Linked DNA regions of Homo sapiens: region 2 is linked to region 1. Evidence: fine-mapped expression QTL. A gene starts in region 1. The other region holds a variant in brackets. All regions are shown on one strand. Distances are from middle to middle.

Region 1 (4,407 bases):
GTGATCCAAGATCTTTAATAAATAAAATTTTAAGAAAAAAGTCCAGTTCCTATATATAAAATATTGGACCAAAACAGAATGATAAATTTTTCTAACAACTTGTCCATATAAACTTTCGAGGATGTACTTACTATAAGAACTTCTTGATGTTCTCAGCTTTCAATTCATCCAAAAATGCTTTCATATTATGCTTTGGAGTAATGTTAGTAGCTTCATTGGAGGATTTTATAAACCACCCTGAAAAATACATCCAAAAATAGGCATGAGATACGAGCCTATAGATAGGACTTATTTTTCATTATTGTTGTATGTATTATTTGTAAAACACAAATTATCAATATTACCTCTGACATTAGGTGAGATATTTCTGAATTTTAATTTCTCTTGCCTACTTTCACTGAAAAAGAGTCATGCAAACAGATTTTTAAGTTGCAAACCAATTGCAAAATATTTCTTATCCAACTTCAATGATAGGTATTGCTGTTATTCTAAGAAATGTTTTATGAGATAATCAGGACGAAAATAAAATGACATTAATGTTTCAACTAATGGGTGTAAACGAGATGTTCTGAAAATGAAGGCAAAAAGGAGATCCACCTTCTACTTTCATAAAGTTTCTATCTTCCTCTGCTGACTCAAATAAGCATTTAATACATTTTTATAACGAATTAATTATGAATATATTTCAAATAAATAAATTATTTCCAAGTGTTGAAGGAAATTCAGACTTCTAATTTGCTCTGATTCTGAAACTAAAACAAAATGCTGTGAGAGTTTGCGTTTCCAGTGAAGTAGGCGTGAGAAATCCAAGTTCAGACAGCTACAATGAAACTACAATTTACCCAGCCTCTCTGCCAGACACCCAGTGCACGCATAGGCGGCCAGAAACAATGGATAGCTAGATCCTGCAGTCATTAGACCTTGCAGTTGGCTTTTAACCTGAAGGAGATAAGGCAAGATTCCAGGGTTTATTTAGAGAAATTACAGGATCTGGGAATAAAGTAGTTACAAAATTAGTCCCCAACCAGCTTTCATGGAGCTTTCCAATTATTAATTATTCTAGTTCTTAATCGCATGCATACAAATGCACATACATATATACATGCATATTAAAATACATGATTGCACGCAAACGGAAATAAGATTCCACCTGTGCATAAAACAGAAAGACTTGGATTAGAGTGAGGGATCAGGAAACACCACACTGAGGACGAGATGCTTGAACTGAGATCTGAAAAATGAACAGGATGAAGAGGATGGAGGCCTGTAGGGGGAGGGGAGAGCAGAGAATCCTAGTGGGTGGGGGGCGGACATCAATAAAGAACTCTTCTGTGTCAGCCACTGAGCACGGAATACAGGGATGAGAGTGAGGGCAATACCAGGAAGAATAAAATCCTTTTAAGAGATGAAGATTGTTATGAGCACAGTGTGTGGTTCAAAAATCTTTTAACAACCCCAAGGTGAAGCTAGTGGAAGATATTGAATTTGTTTAAACCCATCTGGTCCATGCCCTGTTCTTCTAAATCCCGAAAGAGGGTCAAGAATTCCGAGCAGGAGTGGACTACCTGGTGATACCTTAGACTAGTCCTGTGTATTAAAGTCCAATGAGGAGTATCTTGGTAAAAGAAGAAATAAAGTGGCGAAAATCCCAGTACTGTGCTAGGAGATTTACATGCTATATTATTTACTATTACCAATAATTTGCAGATAATATTATCCTCATCATAAAATAGGGTAACTAACGCTGAGAGGGACTCGGTAACTTGTTCAAGGCCACTAAGAAGTGGCAAAGTCAAAACTGGAATTTAATAAAAGAGTCTGAGCTTGCCTGTGTGGTTCTGCTTTTCTTAGAAAGTTGGATCAAGTCTGCAAATCAGTACCCAGGAAAAACAGCAAAAGACCCGCTGGTAAAGACCTGTCCAGATTGCTGACCTGGTTCACACAGTTCCCAAGCTTGCCTCTGTTACTTCCAAGGAAGAAAGAATGCACAGAGAGGTAAAAAAACAAACAAACAAACAAAACAAAACAAAACAAAACAAAAGCAAAAAAAAAACTTCCTCTGTCTTGCAGGGCTCCAGCACTTGGAACCTTCCTACGCCCAGTTTCAGGTTCTCTCAGTTCTACCCTCAACCTGAGTGACTGTCCTACCAGCAGCTTGTCGAGAACTCAGCCCTGCACCGTTCCCAGCTACCCTCCTCCTAACTCGAGGGGTGCTCACCCCACATTACCCCGACCCTAATCGCCGCCCCTGGGGAAGACCAGCAACAGGATCCCACTCGGCAGCTGACCCGCGAGTCCCAGCACCGCGGCACCACGGGGAAGACTCCGAGGTTTGCTCCGCGAGGCGCCCCCCTACCGAAGAGGAAGCCGAGGAGAAAGAAGCCACCCGCCAGCACCAGCGCCCCAGCGCACAGCCAGCGCGGGCGGCGCGCGGTGGCCACAGCCGAGTCGGTTTCGTGAAGGAGATTCCACATCTCGGCGCGAGCAGAGCCGGCCTCCCGGGACCCGCGCCTGTGCTGCTGCTCTACTGCGCGCCCTCCAACCACCACGGCGGGGTAAAGTCTCTCTCAATCTCACTAATGCCTCGCTTATCAGCCCTGCAGGCTGGAATTCGCTCCAGACCTGGGGTCCAGTTTCTCCACCACAGCAGTGTTTCTAGAGTGCACTGAACCAATCCGAGCGAGAGAGAGAGGCAACATCTGCCTCCAGGAGAAGGAAATCCGGCCCCTTTTGAGAGGCGCCTTAAAAAAAAAAACTTTCTTGGAAAATGTCCAGCTCTTGCTTAAATATAAAAATGAAAGGAAGAAAGAGACTCTCCTCTCTCCACTCCTATAATTATGAGGAACTTTTATTCAACTCTGAAATTCTATACAATCTCTACAATACTCTACTGAATAAAAGCAGAGCAGAAAAAGCTGCGCTTTTTTTCCATAGTCGGGAATGCTTGTCATCAGTGTAAATCACCACCGCGCCCTTTTTCCTAAAGAATATTATTGTTATTAATAAACATGTAGGGTATTATCCTCCACTTACATTACAAAACCATTTTTTAAAGCCGGGCGTGGTGGCTCACGCCTGTAATCCCAGCACTTTGGGAGGCCCAGACAGGCGGATCACGAAGTCGAGAAATCGAGACCATCCTGGCCAACATGGTGAAACCCCATCTCTACTAAAAATACAAAAATTAGCTGGGCGTGGTGGCGGGCTCCTGTAGTCCCAGCTACTCAGGAGGCTGAGGCAGGAGAATCGCTTGAACCGGGGAGGCGGAGGTTGCAGTCAGCCAAGATAGCGCCACTGCACTGGAGCCTGGTGACAGAGTGAGACTCCCTCAAGAAAGAAAGGAAGGGAAGGGAAAGGGAAGGAAGGGGAGGGGAAGGGAGGGGAGGGGAGGGGAGGAAAGAAAAGAATACTGGAACTTGTTGAAGGCAGAGACTTTATTTTCATATCCCGGCTATGTCTGGCTACTGTCTTACGTAATAGATATAAAATCAATCTTGGTTGGATTAACCAGAAGAATCATCATACAAAATTATATCCCCGCTATAAATTCTTAATAATAATAATCGTATTTCAAGGGAGAGAATAGCTACATGCTTTATAAAATAAACTGTGTTCTTATAATCCGTGAGAGAGGCCGTGCATTTGCTAGGAGTACTTTATGGAAGCACTGCTTTTAACAGAACCATAAGGTACAGGTAGGATTTGACCCAGTGGAGATGAGAAGAAACATTAGGGGCCATGGGCCAGCTGAGTAGGCAAAGGCAGAAAACTCAGAGTGTATTCAAGGAATAGCAAACAGTTTGCTTTGAGAAAGGGAGAGCACAGTATGAGTTAAGTGGAAAAAGATGGACTAGATTGTACAGTCTTGGGTGCTTCGATGTAGACTTTCTGAGCAAAGTGAAAAATTTGGGAAAATTAATTTGTCAACAATGAACCATGACAACTCCTAGATGACCTAGGGCAGGAAGGAAGGGAATTTCTTCATCTCTTTCTAACAAAATCCTGAATGTACTATATCTTTCCTAATGTTCCTATTGTCAAATCTAATCAGAGATGGCTAATAATAGTGACTAATATTTAAAGAGCACTTATTATGAGTGATGCATGTTATGTACATCACCTCATTTAATCACCATTGGGACCCTTCAAGGTTTGTTCTATTACTCTTCCCGATTTACACATGGTAAAACTGAAATTTAGCTAGATTAGGTAAGTCATTCGAAGTCACAAAGCTAAGACTTAATATAATGTCTGTCTTACTTTGTACCACTCTACAGTCTCTATTCAGCACAGGATACCTTTATGGAGTTTGCTTGTGGCACTGGAGGGAGCACTGAGTTTGGAGTCAGAAGACTCTTAACAGTCTTTGGACCTGGTCCTGTCCAAGCTGTGTACCCCTGGGTGCTA
Region 2 (4,407 bases), 99 kb after region 1:
CGTCAAATTCAACAATGCCTGGAGAGATTGCATGTATTCTTTTCTACTGCATATTTATAGCATTTGTTTGGAGTGCCAAAATTTTTGTTTTAGTCCTATAGATAAGAATTTCTTAACATTTTTTAAGATTTTTCAATTTCTCCTAAACATAATACATAAGGAACACTTTTTAGATAAATGTTGTGTAAAGTTAGCAAAAAAAAAAACAAAAACAAAGACATTATTTTCTTTTACCGTGTCCCCTGATCTCAAATCTTTTCATTTCTCTGTTTGTTTTTTTTTTAATTTAATTTTAGAGGGCTGCTGAAGTATCAAACTAATTTAGATACCAACCCTCCCGGCTGTATCAGTCTTAACTGAACCAGCTCTCAGAATATTTCCTTACCAGAGTATATCTCAGAACATTTTCATGAACCTTTCCCTGAAGGATTTTCAAAACTGGAAGAGTTTACCCAGAACACATTTGTGAAGATTTGTATGGAAGAGCCCAGATTCCAAGCTAATTTTCCACAGGTCAGATTAATTTTGTGTTTGATCTCCACAAAGTTTGTTTCCATTTGACTGATCAACATCACATATAAATGTGTTTTTCAAGCTATATATTCATGCATAATAGGATATTTCAGGATGTTTCAACAGTAAGTTAGTACCTATTATTCCATTACAGGTACTTGACAGTTGAATGCAAAAGATCTATGGTATTAGAGGATATATAACATTTCTACTTAACTGACCATATGAGCTTTGCATACAACAGCACTGGTGCTTGCAGCCAAGAGATGACAAATATTTTTCCCATCATTTGAGAAAAGCTGATTTAATAATAAAAATAGTAGTAAAAAAACTACCACCAATATCACAAATTATTATTTTATTGTATTATAATATTATGTATAATATTGTAAATAGTAAATAGCAAAATCAGTTGATTGAATGCTTAATATTATCTGCCAAGCATTGTGCTAAAATGTCCCGTATGCCTAATACAGAACACTTATTAGACATACAGAATGTTTCTTGCAATATTCGCAATGACTATTTGAGGTAATTAATATCACCCTCGATTTTCTGATAAAGAAATTGTACTTACCTTAATCAAAGTCTCCAAACCAGTAAGTGGCAGAGGAAGCATGTAAACACAGGTCTTTGACTAATATGCTTGCTCCTGGTAAACGTCCATAAGTATTCAGCAATTAGTTCAATAAGGGCCCTTATCTTCCTCTGTGCCTGTGAGAACTACCCCCATGCAAATTACACTGTTTATTCCTCATCTATAAAAAGTGGAAGTAGGAAATAGTGATGTCAAATGTCTCTATTGGAAGAGAAGAAAGAGAAGTCAAAAGCTAGAATGAATTTGTAGATGACTTTGGAATAGTGTATTAGTGATGTGTTTATTATTATTAATAATAATCCTCTAGATCCCTACTAGTCTCTATAATTTTCAGAACTTTTCTGAGTTTCACATAATATTCACAAATATTAGACAGGGCAGGTATGGTGACTCCCGTTTTGCTCATGTGGGACCTGACACTCAAAGAGTAAGTGATTATCTCAAAGGTGCAAGGCTGCTACATTGCAGACCTTGTCTTGCAATGCTACTCATAACACAGTGTGGGGCTAAATGTTATTATATGCAGAAGAGGCATGATCTGTCTGCATGAAAGAAAGAAGATTTGAAACAACTAGAGTGAGGCTTTAAAAAGTGACCATTAAGACAAGTTTTAGTTGGAGGCCTCAAAGGGATGTGAAAGATAAAGTGTGTAATTTTAAGAGAACAGTAAGCCACATAGGCTTCTGCACGTCCCAAAGTTTGCATGTGTCCTGGGATCAGGGCTAACCATGCAACACATATTCAAAATTGTCAGGTTTCCAAATTATAAATATTATTTTATGTTCTTATTATATTATATAAAAGTAAGTGGTAAACAACATGCCTAGCATAATGCATTTTTAAACATATGTGCTATACATATTTAACATATATACACATATGTATGTATATTATGCATATACATTATGTACATTAAAAATCTAGGGTTTTCTTATTTAATAAACATTAGACTGTTACTTTATTTCTAAAATTATCCCCATATTTATCGGAGATTGTTAACTTCCCTGTATTCTTTTATTAAATATGTTGTGTATATACATTACATATCTGTAGGCATAGAAAGGTGTATGAAAGAATATACACTTGTTTGTTCATGGATAGTTACACCCAGAGCATGAGAATGAGGGCAGGGTCTTGATATTACTTTGTGTTTTATTTTATACTTTTGTTTGTTTGAATGATAGTGAGCATCTATTGTTTTTTACTCATTTATTATATTTTCTTATTTAAAATACAAATTAAAATACTATTACTGTAATGTATGCAATGAGCAATTGGGCAGGGTGTAGATTTCTACAATACGAGTATTTCTTGAAGTATATTTTCAAAAATTTGTCTTAGACTTGGCTTTGGATTTCTGGACCTTTGTGCCTGTACTGTGCTGAAAGACTTTACAGGTATATGCGGAGCAATAAGCCAGTCACCATCATTTTGGTCA[T/C]AAGTCATCCCTCAGATGTCATGGAAATCCGGATGGTCAAAGAAAATTTTAAAGCAAGACCTGGTCAGGTGAGTCAGTGGTCAGCAACTTTTTAAATAGCCTTTATCCTTATGTAATTTTTGGAATTTAGCAAACATAGCATCGTTGAAATAGTTGCAATTCTTAATTGGTCATTTAAAACTTATCCGTTTTTTGCTTTTTAGTATATTACTCTACATTGTCCCAGTATATCTGCATTAGAAAATCATCCATTTACCCTCACAATGGTAAGAAACATATCTCGTGCTTTTTCACATTTGTAGGGTGCTATGCATCTTTTTCTTTTTTTGTGTCCTATCTCATTCTAAAAGGTATTCAAGGCTATCATAGTATTCTTGATGTTTAAGTAAGCCATCTTTTTACAAGGAAAATAGTTATCTGCTCAAGAACTTTGTAACTACTCTTTATTATTTTTTGACACCTTACAATTCAGGAAGTAATGTATTAAAACATATTAAAGCTTGTTGATTCAAAATACAGGCCAAGCACTGTGACTCATGCCTGTAATCCCAGCACTTTGGGAGGTCAAGGTAGGAAGACCACTTGAACCCAGGATTTTAAGACCAGCCTGCGAAACATAAGGAGACCCCGTTTCTACAGTAAATAAATAAATAAAAAAGCCAGGTGTGGTGGTACACACCTGTAGTCCCAGCTACTAGGAAGGCTGAGGCAGGAGGATTGCTTGAGCCCCAGTGTTTGAGGTTTCATTGAGCCTTGATCCCACCAGTGCTCTCCAGCCTGGGCAAGAGAGTGAGACCTTGTCTCAAAAAAGAAATTTTATATATATATATAATTTCTTGAATATTTACTTTTCTCCTTTTATGGAGTATTTTAATGTATATGGAAATCTAATATATGCACAATTTTCTTTGGAGATGGAATTTAGGGGAAACACAGATACTCTGGGTTGAGGTGGAAGCATTAAACAAAACAGGCAGTGTTTAGAAAAGGTAAAATCCAGTGTAATGGGAGAGAGAATGGGAAGTAAAATTAGAAAAATCAAATGGAGTAAATAATGGCATGGGAGGGCATCTAGCTAAATAATGGACACCATCAAATATGATTAGATAGTCAGCATATCATTTAATATTATTATAAAAATAGCATGAGTTCATTATAAACATTTAGACAATTCACAGATATAAAATAAAATAGAAACTTAAAAAAAATTTTCCCCACTTTCCAATCCTTTTCTCTACTGTTTGACATATATCTTTCCAGATATTTTCCCATAAGCTTCTGCATACATGAGTTTCTAATATTTATTTGCTGGATCATATTGTTTTGTAACTGGCTCCTTTCACTCAACTACATGTGATGGACATCTTTCCATATTACTGTATGTGCCTCATTCATGTTAATGACCGTATAATATTTCACAGTAGGAAAGTACTGTAATTTATTTAATATTCTCACTAATGTTGGATATTTGGACTTTATTCATTTTCTAAGAAAGATAATTGAGAGCAGAGACCACATGTTTAAATGTATATTTAAGAAAGATAGCAAAACTATTTTATATATATGGTATGTATACATGCATACAGATGGAAACATGTTGTAAAGCATGTTGTAAAACATGTTCCCATCTGTCTGCATCTATACATCCCATATACATGAAATTGGTAACATGAAAATAGAAGGGAATGATTGAAAAGGGAGAAAATACACAAGTAAGTTTGTCTTTACTTAAATAACTTAAGAAGTTTTGCCTAATCCTGGGTTCATAAGAAATTTACTTCAGATTGCCCTGGCCAGAACTTCCAACACTATGGTGAATAGGAGCGGTGAGAGAGGGCATCACTGTCTTGTGCCAGTT

Which allele goes with the higher level. Positions count from the first base shown, and alleles are read on the strand shown. Sizes are in standard deviations (SD) of each study's normalised expression.
With allele C in place of T in region 2, the expression in esophagus mucosa of the gene that starts at base 2,667 in region 1 is higher (moderate effect, 0.43 SD a copy in GTEx).

Evidence for each region. PIP is the estimated chance that this variant, and not a neighbour inherited with it, causes the effect. A credible set is the group of variants that fine-mapping cannot tell apart.
Region 2: its variant is the best candidate, but not a certain one, in a credible set for the expression of FOLH1 in esophagus mucosa (GTEx, PIP 0.66).

Annotation. Positions count from the first base shown.
Region 1 is chr11:49,205,936-49,210,342 of GRCh38, forward strand. It overlaps FOLH1 (folate hydrolase 1), which reads right to left and starts at 2,667. Exons shown (of 19, transcript NM_004476.3): 1 at 2,357-2,667; 2 at 132-237. The coding sequence starts at 2,474.
Region 2 is chr11:49,305,420-49,309,826 of GRCh38, forward strand. It overlaps the pseudogene NOX4P1. Among named protein-coding and RNA genes, the nearest start is that of FOLH1, 99 kb to the left of the region's middle. The variant T/C (reference allele first, on the strand shown) is at 2,550.